Linked DNA regions of Homo sapiens: region 2 is linked to region 1. The links come from fine-mapping of genetic effects on gene expression. Tissue or cell type: whole blood. Region 1 holds a variant in brackets; the other region holds the start of a gene. All regions are shown on one strand. Distances are from middle to middle.

The links. PIP is the estimated chance that this variant, and not a neighbour inherited with it, causes the effect.
Region 2: it holds the start of ISOC1, and the variant in region 1 is fine-mapped to the expression of ISOC1 in whole blood (TOPMed, PIP above 0.99).

The regions. Positions count from the first base shown.
Region 1 is chr5:128,923,195-128,931,381 of GRCh38, forward strand. The region is part of intron 6 of LOC105379168 (a long non-coding RNA gene); the gene reads left to right. Among named protein-coding and RNA genes, the nearest start is that of SLC27A6, 38 kb to the right of the region's middle. RefSeq lists a silencer at 2,819-3,019. The variant A/G (reference allele first, on the strand shown) is at 4,004.
Region 2 is chr5:129,089,799-129,097,985 of GRCh38, forward strand. It overlaps ISOC1 (isochorismatase domain containing 1), which reads left to right and starts at 4,951. Exons shown (of 5, transcript NM_016048.2): 1 at 4,951-5,277. The coding sequence starts at 4,969. It overlaps MIR4633 (microRNA 4633), which reads left to right and starts at 7,890; the gene lies at 7,890-7,968. It overlaps LOC124901060 (a long non-coding RNA gene), which reads right to left and starts at 6,981. Exons shown (of 2, transcript XR_007058926.1): 1 at 6,751-6,981; 2 at 3,128-5,601. RefSeq lists a silencer at 4,569-5,348.

The DNA.
Region 1 (8,187 bases):
ATATACAAACATCCTTTTGTTTAATGCTGGTATTTATCAGGGAAATGCAAATTGAAATCCATGAGATACCACTTCACACCTCCTAGAATGACTATAGTCAAAGAAACCAAAAATAAAAATTTTTAGGGAGGATTTGGAGAAAGTGGAGCCCTCATACACTGATGGTGGGAATATAAAATTTGAAAAACAGTTAGGAAAAGCCTAGAGCTTCTTCAAAACGTTAAACATAGAGTTACCACATGATCTAGCAATTCTACTCCTAGGTATATACCCAAGAAAAATAAAAACATGTCCACACAAACATTTCTAAGTGATTGTTCATAGCAGCAGCATCTATAATAACCCAAAAGTGGAAACAACTTAAATGTCCATCAACTAATAAAATGTGGTAATATCGATATAATGGCATATTACTCCACAATAAAAAGAAATGAAATACTTCTACATGTTGCAACATTATGAACCTTGAAAACATGCTTAGTGAGAGAAAACAGACATAAAGAACCATATATTATAATAATTTCTTTTGTAAGAAAAGTTATACTATTATGTCCTGTTTTGTTGGGTAGTGGTGAAAAGATTGTGGTCAGAGCTAGAATGTCCCATCTTAGGAGAAACTTCCATAACCACCCATAGAAAGTAGCTACCCAATCCCTCTTTAACATGACTTAATTTTAATATTCTACATAAAACCAATCCAAATTTTATTTTTTTAAAAAGTATTTATGTACTTTATTGTCTTAACACTGAAAAGTAATGTATACAAGCAAAGAATTGCCCTTGTTATTCACAGCTGTATCTTTAGGACCAACAGTGGTGCCAGGCAGAGTTGGCCACCTAATAGGTATTCGTCACTAATAAGACATTTATCATAAAACTATGGGAGATTCAAAGATATAAATATTTAACACAGTGACCATTTCTTGGTACTGGTACTTTTTATTAATGTATTTATTAAAATTGATAAGTAAAAATTGAACTTATTTATGGCATATAAGATGATGTTTTGAAATATGTATACATTGTGGAATGACTAAGTCAAGCAAACATATGCGTTACCACACATACTTATTTCTTTGTGATGAGAACACATAAAATCTCTTCTCTTAGTGATTTTCAAATATACAATACATTGTATTAACTGTAGTCATCGTATTGTATTATAGGTACTGGTACTTTGAGTGCCCTATCTTGTGTAATCCTTAGCTCAGCCCTGGGAGGTCAGTAGTATTCTTTCCATTTTTAGAGAAATTAATAGTTCACTTCAGATCACACAGTCTGTACCAGGGCAAGATTCCAGTTAGATGCCATGCTTTAATGATTACACTGTACTATAGCCAGTGCTGAAGCAAGTACTATTGGGATTTAGGAGTGTCAGGGGATGCTTCGAGACAGAGGGATATTTTTAACTAGGTTTTGAATAAGAGGGAGACTTTTGTTCAGGTGGTGGGATGGCATACCATCCAAAGTGTGGGAGGAGGATAGCACAGAGCTTATAGAAAGCAATGAGTGGTTCAATTTGGCAGGAGTCTAAGATGAGCTACATTTGAGAAGAGGTTTTGAGAATGAGGTGAATATTATGATTAATTTGCTCCATTTTGCAGAAATGACTGGACCAATGTTGATGTTTCTTCTTATAAAGGCACTAGTCCCATTTGTGAGGGCTCCACCCCAATTACTTAATTATTTGCCAAAGACCTCACCTCCAAATATCATCACACTGGAGACTAAGCTTCAACCTAGGAATTTGGGGACACATCCTTTATCTCGGTTTCATCTCTCCCACCACATGTCCACTTTAGATCCCTTCTAGATTACAGCAAAAGCCCTGATATTCACCAACCATGCCCATACTTTTCTGTTTCTGTGCCAGGTCTCTTAATACCACTTTTGCCTGGAGCTCCTAGCTTCAGCCATATTGCCTTCTATCAACATTCTGTCTTTCCTGGCTCCTTTGAAACACCATTGGTTAAAGATCTTTCTGAATGCATCTCCCAATAATCAGATGTGCTACTAAATAAGATATGGTGTCTTCTTCATAATTATCAAGGAATCCAATATTTCTAGGTTTTTTTAAAATCAGTTTCTGAGAAAAGCTTCTCCATTATTCTTGTGGTATGCTCTCTTGTTTACATTTTGGTTTTTCTATTTCAGATAATACTGGGGATTTGCTCATGTAGTTCATCTGTATCTATATACTTGTTAAACTCTGCATAGAAACTTTCTGAAGGAAATAATAATGATAATTATTATAGCTAATCATTCCCATTTTCTATGTTATTCAAACATGCCTGTATGATGTACTAAAATTATCTCTATTACTTAGTACTGTACTTATGACAAAGTAGGAGCTCAAATAATTCTAATTTGCTGAAAACTCTACAGTCTAACTGATATGTTGGAAATAATCTACATGTTATGTCTTCATAGGAACTTCATTTATGATCATTCCTTTCTTTCCCTAAATGGTACCTAAAAAAAGATTCCATTTCACTTTTATTGAGCATCTACTCAGTGTAAGACTATTCTTTTTAATGCATGGAATGCAAGAACTGTGATAGTAACTGGCTTCATAGATCTTAGCATCAACTGTAAGGATAAGGCAAGAGTATTTACAGGTAATTGTAGGTAATAAAAACTGCAATTAGAAGCACACAAAATATTCTGTAGAATTCAAAGAAAGGAGAGATCATATCACATTAGAAGTTAAAAGAAAGATTTCATGGAATAGTTGACATATCATTCAGGCAGTGTGGCAGAAACTTCTAGTTGCCCACCTGAATATCCATTTACCCTTTCCTTTTTAGGAACAGAATTCTGATTTTTAGCTGAGCTCATTGATGCGTGAATAGAAAGACTGCATTTCACAGGCTCCCTTAAAGCTGAGTGCAATCATGTGACTAAGCACTGGCCAAAGAAATGTCAACGGAAGTGTTATGTGTGATTTCTGTCAATGTCACTTAGAAGTAGCTGACTTGCAGAGAGAAAGGAGATAAATCTTTTTTTTTTTTTTTTCATCACTATTCTGCCTTTTGTCTGTCTTTTGGCCCACACCCTCAGATATAATGGCTGGAGTTTCACAGACTATCCTGGGTCATGAGGTGACTCGAAGACGGAAAACTTGCCCTAGTCTGATAGAGCAGAAAGACAGAAATTGTGTTCTTATGAAAACATGGAATGAACTTTCTACCTCCAGACTTATTTTACACAATAATGAAATAAACTTCTAACTTATGTAAGCCCCTATTATTCAGAGATATTCTGGTCCATCCCACTAAAACAGATTCTAATCTACAGCCCTGGAGGCTTTCACTAAAGGCAGGCGGAGCAAAGTAAATGGCACACTGTTAGGAAATTTTATAATTTTACCTTTATTCTCATTTTGGTCATTCCTATAAAACCTCTGGCAATATTCCTTGTGGTCCTCTTTCCTTCCACTAACACTTAACCGTCACAACAGGCAGTCTTACTCAGTAATCAAAGATGTGGACTCTCGAGTCAAGACTCTATAGGTTAAGATCCCAGCTTGGCCTCTCATGAGCTGTGTACTTTGAGCAATGATTTAACCTTTCTCATTTCCTCAACTGCAAAATTTATACAGCAGTAAGATCCAGCTCACAGGGTTTTTGTGAAGATTAAATTAGTAAAGGATGTACAGTAAGACCATAGAACAGTAACAGGCTCACAGTAAGTGCTCAGTAAATGTTAGAGAGAAATGTGACTATCAATTCAAGAATGGCTTGTTGAATGTCAGTTATGTGTTAAGCTTTATATTCAGCTTGGGTACAAGGGAGTAAATAAATCACATTCCTTAGCAGTTCACAGTATAGTTCTCTGTGAGAAAAATATATATCTATATTTTGGGGGATGATTTTCTTCTAGCTCCATGTCCTGTTAACCACACCAAGCCAGTCTGAATTATAAAACAGTGTTTTTGTTTTGTTTTGTTTTGTTTTTGAGACAGAGTTTTGCTCTGTCACCTAGGCTGAAGTGCAGTGGTGCA[A/G]TCTTGGCTCACTGCAGTCTCAACCTCCTGGGTTCAAGCAATTCTCATGCCTCAGCCTCCCAAGAAGCTGGGATTATAGGCACCCGCCACCACACCCGGCTAATTTTTGTATTTTTAGAAGAGACAGGGTTTTACCATGTTGCCCAGACTGGTCTCAAACTCCTGAGGTCAAGCAATCCACCCGCCCTGGCCTCTCAAAGTGCTGAGATTACAGGTGTGAGCCACCACACCCAGCCAACAATGTTTAATCATTGGATAAATTATACAATTCAATGCATTCTCCCCTGGCAAGAAGAAATGCCCTGGCATGGTACACAGGAAGATCAAAATGATAATATCATGAGATCTACCCCCACAAAAAATATTTGAGAGACTTCCTTTCAAAAACTTCAAATTAATTATAACTCAGTTTAGGGAGACCTGAAAATGAGTAATGACAAAGTACGGCAACATCAAAAATATCTTATATTACTATAATTTGTGCAAATGCCAAATTAAATGTTATAAGCTATCTGAAAAGAATTTTTGCGCTATGAGAAAGATGACAAAGCAATTTCCACATGGCTTCTACTGCCTGTTCATATGTTTATACTAAAAGATACTTCCTCTATTGTCCACATGGCTTTTACCAACCCCCACTTCCACTTAGAACTATTAGAGGAAGTTGCCAAATTATTATGAGTCAGTTGTTTAGAAATTGAACATTATTATACAGGTAGCCTACCTAACTCACAGTGTGCCTAAATATGGCAATAATAACACTGACTCCAACATTGTACTCTAAGCTCTCTCAGAGGAAAATTCATAGCAGATTCTTACTTGAGATGACAAATTACGTCTCACGGCTGTAATCTCTTCCAACACACTCTCTTCAGTCACTGGGAATAATTACTGGGATATGGACAAAGAGTTCCATCCATCTGGGGTTTGGGTAAAGGACAATAGGAAGAGAAAAAAGGAGTCCCCAGGGGCTCTTGGTTCTGCATCAGCTTCTAATTGCATTTCTTACAGGGCCAGGAGATTGGTCCACATATTTCTAGTTCTACTATCCTGGCCTGTTCTTCTGGCTATGGGTTGTCTCCTCTCCCAGGCCACTGCCCTGTGAAACTACAGTTCTTCTCTAGTCTCCAGTTCCTGAATCAAGTATACAGTCCTTTGGAGCAGTGGTTTTCAACTATTTTTTTTTACATGATCTGCAGCAATAAAAGCATTTGACACCATAATTAAATAAATATGTACCTCTACATAGACATAAGTGAAAGAAAAGTTTTACAGGGCAAAACTCATCCTACTATGTGATATGCACACTCTATTCCATTCTATTAAAAAATGTTTGTTATCATGGCTTACTAAGTCAATTTTATGACTGTTTTATAGATTATACCTCACAGTTTGAAGAACTGTGCTTTAAACATTAAAAAAAACTTTAAAAAAAAGTCTAAAAACTAACATAAACAATTTCAAATCATCTCGAAAATGTCACACTATACTGGACATTTAGTTTATTTTGACGTTTAGGGCTTTGAAACTCCTCACTATGGAAACTTCTCTACCTCATGAAAACTGGAGAGATAAGGGTATGTTTCCTACTGCAAAATTGCCACTGTCCAGACACACTATTTCTCTGGCCCCTAGAAATAAGGGATGAGCATGTGACCCTTTCAGTTTCTTGGTTTGGAGCAAGAATTCATTCTGGCAGCATAAATTAACATTGGCTGCATGGGTAGTGGTACAACAGAGTACACTGTTCATTGTGGAATGGGCCTGGGTGCCACATGTTGCACCCCGTAGCCAGCAAGAAGGATAACAGTATCTGCATCCACATGGTGTTTGGTGGTGTGGTTTTAGCTGTAATCATTGTGTCCAGCCTCCTTTTATCCTTACCTTGCCCATGTCTGATTCTCCAGCCTTTCTAGTAGTTCCCTTTCTTTTTAAATCTGCCACTGTGTAAGTTGGTTTCTCTGGTTTGCAATGACTTGCAATCTATTTCCCTGAGGTTTAACTCAACATTAGGGATTTTTCCTCTGCTTTATGCAAAAGAACACTATCTCAGAGATTCTTTGCAAAAATATTCATTAGAGGCCTGTGAAGGAAAGGATGGGAACATTGAGAGGTGAAAGTTTGATAGGAGAATTGATAATTCAGCTTGCTGGTGAGAGAGTAAGTAGAGAAAGAATCTATCTTGGGATTTTTTCACCTTCCTTTCTTCAACAGGATCCTCATTATATCCCTTCTACTGTCAAAAATCCTGGTTGGGGTCAGGGTCGGGCAACAAAAGACCAATATTCAGTGAGGGAGAAAAGGGAAGGCAGTCATAAGCAATGAAAGAGAAGGGAGCCCTAGTTGTATCATTGGGGAATAAAACTAATTCATTATGGCCACTCCGTTTCACATGCTGGGGGCCCGTCCTGGGTATGTACAAGAAAAGAAATGTGTATGAAGCAAAAATGTGTCTAATGCCATCTGCAGTCATCTAAAGACCAGTGTAAAGAAGCATGTATTTTTCTGCATAAGTATCATTATTATTATCAAGATTATTTAGTATTTGTTAATAGACTGTGAGATCTAGTTTAATTCTTTCCAGTAACAAGCTAGATGGCCAGTGTAAATTTTCGTAGTTGATTCATCCAGTTGGTGCCTTAATTTCTGCACAACTTCTCATCAATAGGCCATAGCAAGGGGTCCTCAAATGCAAAGAAGTAGGTTTGTTGGGGAAAGTGCCCATTAAATTCCATTGTTTTCCTCTTTAGGATATTATGTTTTGACATTTCAACTGTCCTCATTGCACAAGAGTTTTCAGACTAAATGTTTGGTATATAAATCCAATAAGGATATGTTGAAAACTTTAACTCATACTTAAAATGCCACCAGTTTCCCAAATCTGTACTGGATTAACACCCACATGTAAATGTGATGATTCCTTATAACTGCTTCGAAGTTAAGTGAGCACAACTGTGTTCTTGTAGCAAATAAGCACTTGTGAAATATCGAATGAAACAAGCATGAAATACTAGTCAGTTAACAAAAATGCAAAAAAAAATGTTTTTACTACTGACTAGTAAAAATCAGTCTAAATAATTTCATTTAGACTGATTAATTTACCTTACCCAGTGAGCATGTAGATACAATTAGTAAAAATAGAATATGAATATAAATAGCAGTTTTGATGCTTAGAAAAATTTGAAAACGTGATATTTGCCAGCATTAAGCTCATGAATTTTCATTTAAAAATACAATTTTAGAAATTTTTCTTCTCTTTGCTTGCAGTGTGATATTGAGAAATAGATGTAAGGCCCAGATGTTATTCATATAAATTCTTAAGCAGTAGAGATTTTAAACAATATGAGTACATGATTAACAGGTATTGCCTGTGATTTCGGATTTGAACATGATTAAGGCTGGGCTGCCTACATCTGCTGAATTCTGAGATATGAAGGGACAGGATCTTTGGGGCATCATCTAGTTTATCCAATGAAGTATTAATGTGTTGGAAAAAAATATTTCTTGTTCATGGGCCAAACAGAGTCATGTGTCACTTAGCAATGGGGGGTCATTCTGAGAAATGGGTTGTTGGGTGATTTCATCCCTGTGTGAACATCCTAAGAATATGGCTACTAAAGTTAGCTTCCAGAAGGGACAGATAAACTTATTCTCACAAATATTTACATTATCAAGAAGAAAGGGGAAAATACTTATAATTTTTAAAATAAGAAGAGACAGTTTTAATCTTTTATCTAATTGATTTAAAAATTATTGAATTAGCTGGGCATGGTGGCACACAGCCATAGTCCTAGCTACTTGGGAGGCTAAAGTGGGAGGATCGCTTGAGCCCAGGAGTTCAACATTACAGTAAGCTGTGATCACACCACTGCACTCCAGCCTAGGTAACAGAGACACCCTATCTCTAATAATAATAATAATTTGAAGGGTTATCATAGTCAAAACAATGTGAAGATTTTTAATATGTTACTCATTTTTTTATAAATTTCTAAGTGCTACCTTATTTAGGCATGGTAACCTTGAAATATTCACATGTTTAGAGTAAAAAAAAAATGAAAAGTGAAGTGAATTAATTTTTGGAAGAGTCAGAAGTTAACCTTGGGAATGATTTCAGGTGATTAATTACCTGGGTGGCTGTGGCTGACCAGCCTTACTGGCTCTGCTTTTCTTCATCTGTGAGTCCT
Region 2 (8,187 bases), 170 kb after region 1:
ACCTTGCAGCATTTCATCTTACAGAGAATGAGGTGTAGCATAGCATTATTCTCAGTTGTGGCACAATGGTGCCTCCATTGTCGAAAGAGGTCTCCTAAACATTGTGTTTCCGTATTCATGGTAGAAAGTGCAAGTGTAAAAAGCAATAATTTGTCCTGTACTTTGGAGGGGATGTCTTAGAATGCCTTAGGACACTGGGCCCTAAAACATTGCTAATGTGGTGGTTCCTTGAAACTATTTAGAGGTTATCACTCCCCTCTGGAACACTTGTGTCTTACCAAGGCCTTCAATGAATAGTCACTTTTTGTTCATCTTGTTCAATCTGCATGATGTTATTGATACAGTGAATGAAGGTGATATTCTGCAGGATGTCCAGCTAACTTATATCTCTTCAGAGTATATTGTAATAGACGGCAGGACAGTTAACATAGCCTTGGGGTAAGGTTGTAAATTTATGGCCCATTTAAGAGCAGCCTTAGAAGCACTGTGTTCAGACCATCTCCCAAGAACCTTACTAGGGTGTTAAATCCTCTATCCTAATATGGTGTTTCCTAACCGAGAAACTTTTTTGTTCCACATCCTCGATCACACACCCTCCAAATCCAGTGCTGTGCATAATCTCTCTGCTCCTGATGGTATATGCTGGTTATTAGATTCTGTAGCTGCTCTTGGATATATTCCTTCTTTTTCAGGCCCAACATATCTGTGGCCAGATTTTACTGTTAATTAAGCCTACTTATGGATATAGGTATCAGGAGGGAAGGAGAGGGAAGAGCCTGGGAAAGCTAATGTCTTGCTAGAGAAAAGGCTTTGCATTGCCTTCAAGAAATGAGGGAATGCTAGTCATTAAGAAAAGAGTAAGTCATTTCTAAAGACCAGATCAATTAAAAGAATCGAAGGACTCATAATTTTCAGTGTCATCAACTTTATCCCATGTGTCACGGTCCCATTTCTCAACCAGAGTCCTGACCTTGGCATAGAAAATATGCATTTTTTAAGAGTTTAACCTTCTTTGGAGCTCTGCTACCTTCAGTCCTAGTCTTGGTCCTCAGCTTTCTCTCTCTTCTTATTGCAGGAACTGAGAGACTCAATGCTGCCAAAAAGTTCTTCCAGCCTTCACACTTAGCTTTTAGTTGCCAACTATCTTTTTTTTGGTCTTTTTCTAGAGCATCAATCAAACTTTGAAACTGTCATTCAATTCCTTTATTCTTATAATTAGTATTTCCTCCATATTTTTCAAATTCTTAATTACAGTGAAGGCATTCCTTTCCAGTAGTATATGATTCTAGTTCATCTTGCTGGAAGTTTAAAAAAACTGCCAGGGGCTATCTGTGCTCCACAGATATTAGTGGTTAGGTATTCATTATCTGCCCAACAGTGGGTGACCCAGCTCCAAAATCCATCCACATTGGCCTCCTTTCATCTTTCCTAGCAACAAATGTCACAGGTTGATTTCCCTGGAAAGCAGACTCTGAGATAAAAATCAGCACACTGAAGACTTAATAGACAGTGCTATTTTGGCTATTATTTCTTCCAATATTCTTTCTGTTCCATTCTTGTCTCATCTCTCCCTCTTGGACTCCAACTACATATTAGATCATTTGATATTGCCCTCCAGGTTACTAAAACTGTCATCATACTTTTTTCAATCTCTTCCTGTTCTTCACATTGGATAATTTCTAGTACTCTGCATGCAATTTCACTAATCATTTCTTCTGGAACCTATAATCTGAAGTTTAGATTACCCAGTGAGCATTTCACTCCAGACATTGCACTTTTAGCTTGAAAAGTGACATTTGGCTATGTTTTCAGTCATCTCCATCTCCCTGCTGGTATTCCCTATCTGCTCAGTCTTATGGCTACCCTTTCTTTTAAGACCTTGAATATACTTGTAACAACTTCTTTAAAGTTCTTTTTCTCTTAATCCTAACATCTAGATTGTCTTGAGGTCTATTTTTATATACTGGAGGATTCTGAACACAGCAGTGACACGCTCTAAATTTATGTTTTTGAAAAAGTGCCACTCTAATAGCCGTGTGGTAAATGGAGTATAAAAGTCTATGTAAATGAGGTAAATGGATAAATAGGGATACAAAAGTCAAATATTGGGCACAACTTATGATGAGTTACAGTTAGATGGAAGACGACAGTGGTTTTGTCTTAGGTGGTGGCACTGGTGTGAATGAGAGGAATTTGGTTCTGACCACCAGGTCTTGCTGATAGACTGGACAAGGACAGAAAGAGGAGTAAATTAAAGGATAAACCCCTGGTTATTGTACTCAGTTACTAAAACGGGGTTGCCATTTGCCTAGATATCAACAGGGGAGAGAAAATATTCGAGGACAGAAGAAAACTAAGAGTTCTGTTAGTACATTTAAATGTGAGGTATCTATTGAATATCCAAGTGGAGATGTCGAATAGGCACTTGTGTATGAGTATGGAGTGCAGAGTGAGGGCCTGGATGTTAAAAATTTGGAAGTCAAAGGTATATGGGTGATATTTAAAGCCACAGTCTTAGGATAATAGATGTGAGGACTGAGCTCTGGTATACTTGTATTTATAGAGGTTTGGGGAATGAGAGGAACATAGGAAACGAGCTTGAAGTGAGGTGGAAGGAGAAATAAGAGAGAGTGGTATCCCAAAGACAAAGTGAATATGGTTCAAAATAAAGGGAGTAATTGGTTTGTCAAATGTTGCTGTTAACTGGGAAAGGTGAGAAATAAGCCTTTGTTTTATCAGTCTATTGAGATTTTGGGGTTTGTTTCTGTAGCATATTAATGTATTAATCAATACTGTGTAATATACCTTCTTGATTTTCTTGGAATTTAGATTCTAAAAGTAAGCATTTAACATTAACTAATAAAGCTACTGAGAGTCCTATATGAGAAAATTTTGGGCATTTGGTCCATAATATGATCTTGTCAATTAGAACAGTTATTTTCTACTTGTCATTTGAATATTCATTTATGGGGTCTTACTCACTTTTTCTGGTAACATTTATAAAAATTATCTTAATAATTGTATTTCTGAGGATAATAATTTATCACTGAAATGTGCATTCACCTCCCTTTTGCAGCCCAGTGATGCAGAGGTTGATACACAGTTGATATTCAATAAATGGTAAATGTGCCCATCAAATATCTATTTTATTAATGTTATTTAACATGCTATTACCACAATGATTGCACCATTAAACTAGGTTGTCAAGGACCAATCTCAGACAGCACAATATATATGGAAGTTGATTTCCTTACTGAAGGGTCAGAAACCTAATTTAAAAACATGAAAGGGAAATGAAGTATGTTGACTCACGGCCATGAGGGCCACGGCAGAAGACTGTGTAGATGCCAAGGTCCTCGCTGAGGATGTCTGAAGTCTAGGCCAATCTCTAATCTCCAACCTACTCTGTGTTAGGAGGCTTTACAGGGTGGAAGGAACACTTTTATTAGTCCACCCAAAATAGGTAGGTACCTTTTGGTAATCAGGTCTTGAGGGGGTACACTTATTAGCACAAATCAGCATATCTGCATATAGAAGACCTTGCAATGGAGTGGTATCCGGAAAAAAATATCATTTTGGGTCTGACGGGTTCAGACAACACTTTTAAATGGGATCTCTCAAAGTGTGATGAGAACCAGAAAAAAATGGCTATTTCTAGTAGCTTCGGTACAATTGAGCAAGAAACACCAAAGGATGGTCTTTTCATAACTTTAAAGCAGTGTGGTTCTCAAGTAGGGGGTATATTTGCCCTCTGGGGAATATTTGGCAATGTCTGGAAACATTTTTGATTGCCATAACTAGAGGGAGGAGCGGTCACTAGGCATCTAGCGGGAGTAGAAGCCGGTGATGCTGCTAAATATCCTGCAAATGCACAAGATGCCCCATCCCCAAGAAAGAGAAATGTCCATTCCAGAAGTCAACAGTGTCAGTTGGGAAACCCTGCTTTAAAGGTTATTTTCTTAGAAGAGGACAGCTTTAATACCTAAAATCTAATTTTATGTTTAGGCCCATGCCTATCTTCGCAGGACTCAATTCCAAGGAAATTCTGTTCATAATGCATGCTTTCTAATTCCAGTTAATTATAGCGCCTTACAGTGTGCAGAAGGCAGAGGATTGTTTTATTTGAAAGTGATCCCTTTTACTTACTTAAAAACAGATATCCTTAGTTTCAATATAAAGTTCAGATTTTTGCTTTTAATAGTATTTATATTCCCAAATCCAAGTCCTCCCAGAAATAGGTTGAGATGAAGGGAGGCCAGATATCAAATCCATTCCTAGAGATATTGTGTTCTGTGGGACCGAAAAAAGACAAAACTTGAACCTTGACTGGCCCTCTAAGGATTAAATTCTGCTGCTCTTCTTAGGGTATCTATCGGACTGTCCCTTTGGTTGTAAGATACCACTGCCATCTCGAGGAGGACTGCATGCTTCTGCACAGAGCCAACAGGTAACTCGTCCTGGCGGCTCTGTGTACCCAACCACAACCCTAGACTGCCAAGAACACTGCTCATTCGAAGGCGAGCGAAGCCGCGAAGAGGGCCAGCGTTAGGGGAAGGGTGGTACAAACCCTTGTGTGAGCTGCAGCACCGGGGCAAGAACAACGGGCAGCCCAGGCGGGTCTTGGGTCTGCGAGACCACTAGGCGTTCTGCCGGCAGTCAGAACCGCGGCAGAAAGGGCGCGAGCGGGGAACTGCGGGAACGCAGCGGCCCGGGAAGCTGGAGGGGGCGGACCCGGCCGGCGAGCGCAGGCGCTCCCTGGCTCACGCGCGCACCCCGGCCCCACCACCCACCCTTACGCCGCGGCCCGCCCTCCGGGGCGGGTAAGAGAGCGCGCGAGCAGCGGTCGTCAGGACACGCCCCTTCGCCTCCGCGAGCTGGCGGGCGGGCTGGCATCGCCGGGAGGCGGGGCCGCGGCAGCCGGCTGGGTGCGACTGGGCGGCCTCGGAGCTCGCAGACGCTCGGGGGAACATGGCGGCTGCGGAGCCGGCGGTCCTTGCGCTCCCCAACAGCGGCGCCGGGGGCGCGGGGGCGCCGTCGGGCACAGTCCCGGTGCTCTTCTGTTTCTCAGTCTTCGCGCGACCCTCGTCGGTGCCACACGGGGCGGGCTACGAGCTGCTCATCCAGAAGTTCCTCAGCCTGTACGGCGACCAGATCGACATGCACCGCAAATTCGTGGTGCAGCTGTTCGCCGAGGAGTGGGGCCAGTACGTGGACTTGCCCAAGGGCTTCGCGGTGAGCGAGCGCTGCAAGGTGCGCCTCGTGCCGTTGCAGATCCAGGTGGGTCCTGCGGGAGGCCGCGCGCTTCCCTGTTCCCGAGTCGTCCCCGTCCCCGTCCCTGTCCCCGCCTTCGCCGCGCTCCTCAGGTGCCCCGAGCCGCCCGGGACCCGGGCCCTGCGCGAGTGGCTGAGTCCGAAGGGCTGCGCGTCTTTCGCAAGTTCCGGGGCCGGCTGGGGAATGCCCCTGTCCAAAGGTGATGGTCACCAGCTGTCCCCGGCGGGGGCGTGGGCCTCGTAGCTGGTTTCAGCGCCCGCGAACGCCCCCACGTGTGTGGTCCTCGGTCGCCCGCATCCGCTTTTTATGCCAGGATCAGGTCCCAGCCTCCTGCGTAACCAAAGGGCTGTGCTGTAGTAGCTGTTTTTATTTTGGGGTGATGGGTGATGCAGAATGGGGGGAAATGAGATTGTGGGGAGTATTGGTCTTAGGGTTTGTTCCTAGAGTTGTGTTAACCACTTGCGGAAACGCAAACTTTGGGAGTCAAACCCATTCCCCCCCGCCTTCCCAGGCTCTCAGGTCCTTGGGCTTAAGAGTTCCCTAACCTTAAGCAAATAACCATTTGCTTAGCCTCCTCTTAGTAAAGTGTCTACTGACTTGATTACGTTTTGTCGTCTGCATTGAAAAAGTCATTTGACTCCATGATTGTAATTCCTTCTTGAATACAAATACCCAACTTAAGCTAGACCTTGAGTTCCTGGGCCTGCTGGCTGGGAAAGTTGTTCTACCTGAGGACTACTTAACAGCATTTATTTTAAGCTGTGCTCTCATGCTAGGCGGGTTAATCTTCCGCCCTCTTTAGGATCAGATTGTTCACTGGCGAATTTATATTTTGGAAAGGAAAGAATATAAGGTATAATTTAGGTAGTACACTGTCGATATCATTTCTTTAGCTGAGAAACTGATAAGTCATTTTTTCAGAAGACCAAACTGAAATGTGGGATTCGGGGATAAAAGGTATTTTAATATTTAAGTGTCATTTTCTTTCTTTTTTGTTTTTAGTTTTTATGGGCACATAATAGTTGTACATATTTATAGGAGACGTGATATTTTGATTCAAGCATACAGTGTAGTGATCAAATCAGGGTAATTGGAATATCCATTACCTGAAACATTTATCATTTATTTCTTTGTTCCAAATTCATTTTTGTAGTTATTTTGAAATATACAATAAATTATTGTTAACTATAGTCACGCTATTGTGCTACTGAACACTAGAGCTTATTCCTATTATCTGTGTTTTTTGTACCCATTAACAGTGCCATTTTCTGAGGATTATTCCCTAGTTTTTTTCCGCTGTAGTTGGCAGCTGAATTGATGATGTTTCCTGTCACCCCAACACCTGTGCCAGAAGTGTCCAAAGCAGGTACTTTAGCTTCGATAAAGTTCCTGCATTCAGAGGACAAAGTCAGAGACTGCACTCTCTGCCAGTGGAGAACCTGGAACTGGATACAGTGATCTGATACCCCAGAATCTTACCTGCTGCTCAGATAGGGAATTGCAGTTCTTAGGTGCTTAAGACTCCTCATTTTTATGTCTTCAAGCGTTTTCGTGTCTGACACCTCTCTGCAGCCTTCCTTGTCAGTCCTTTTACGTTACTGCTGCCAGAATACTCAGATGTTGGATGCACCTTTGAGAAGTCCATTTATAAAGGCTAGAATCCAAATACTAACTGCGGAGGTCTGGGACTAAGGATGCAGACTTCTTTATGAAGCATTTCCTGTTACGGCTTGGAGGGAGGCTGGGCTCTTATCTAAGATAATGCTATTCTAAACTAGGCCCCAGCTCTGTAAGAGTCCCCGCCTTCCAAGATAGGATTTTTATATTTGAAAATTTCAGGGCCTTGGTCTGGCAACTCTTAAAAACATTCTAGAAATTAATGAAATGTATGTACCTGAAAACGCTTGTACATTCTCAAAAGGCGTTATATAATTCTGGTCACCTGTAGCTTTTGCAGTGTTTTGCTTGGTATAGGAGATTATGTATAGTTCACTTTTTTTTGGTGAGGTTTAAAATAACAATAGCATTACTCTACTCCCTCTTCAGAAGAAATTTTTCCGCCAACTAGTCTAATAATTCTTAAGCATTAGTTATATTTTTGCATTTATATAGCTTTATATTTTTAATTCTTTAAAAATATTTTCTCTTCTATATTATCTCATTTTAGTAGTTATACTTTGACTTCTTCAGCCTGATGCCTCTCCTAGCTTAGAGGTAGATAAAGGAAGGGGATAGATACATAAATATGCACACACTGTGTATCGTATATACCTTCTGATACCGATTTATGTCTATATGAGAAGAGAGAGATATATATACACACATACATATATATGCATATGTGTGTATAATCTCAGAAAGTCATGATATTTCTCATGACTACTGTACACTATATTCTTTGGAACCTAACAGCATAATCCTAGAGACTTGGATGTTTTATGGCTGTAAGAGACCATACAGTTCATTCCACAACATGTGAGTGGCAGCTTTAAATGCCTGGCACAGTGAATGCAAACTTGGATTCAATTCTTGTTCCTTACCTAATAAATGAACTTTCACTTTGAGGAAGTGCAGAAGAACATAGGGAGGTGGAGGTGAGTAACTTGCTGCAGGTTACATGGCAAGTCTCCGCATATGCCTGGCTAGCTCCTCCACAAATGCGTGTGGAGGAGCTAGCCAGGCATATGCAGAGCGTCACTTACAGCCGAACACAGCACTACTGCTTGCATGTTTAATGAGAATTGAGCAGTCTGGAAAACAAGTCACAAACTTGAGCTCTTGTTTGTTCATTTGTCTTGGTGCTGCTCCTTGTTCTTTGGAATAAATGCTTGTCACTTAGGAAGACTCAAGGTGGCCTATCGGTGAGTCCATGTTACTGGGGATGGTTGGCCCCTTCTTGAAGGCAGGGACAAAGAG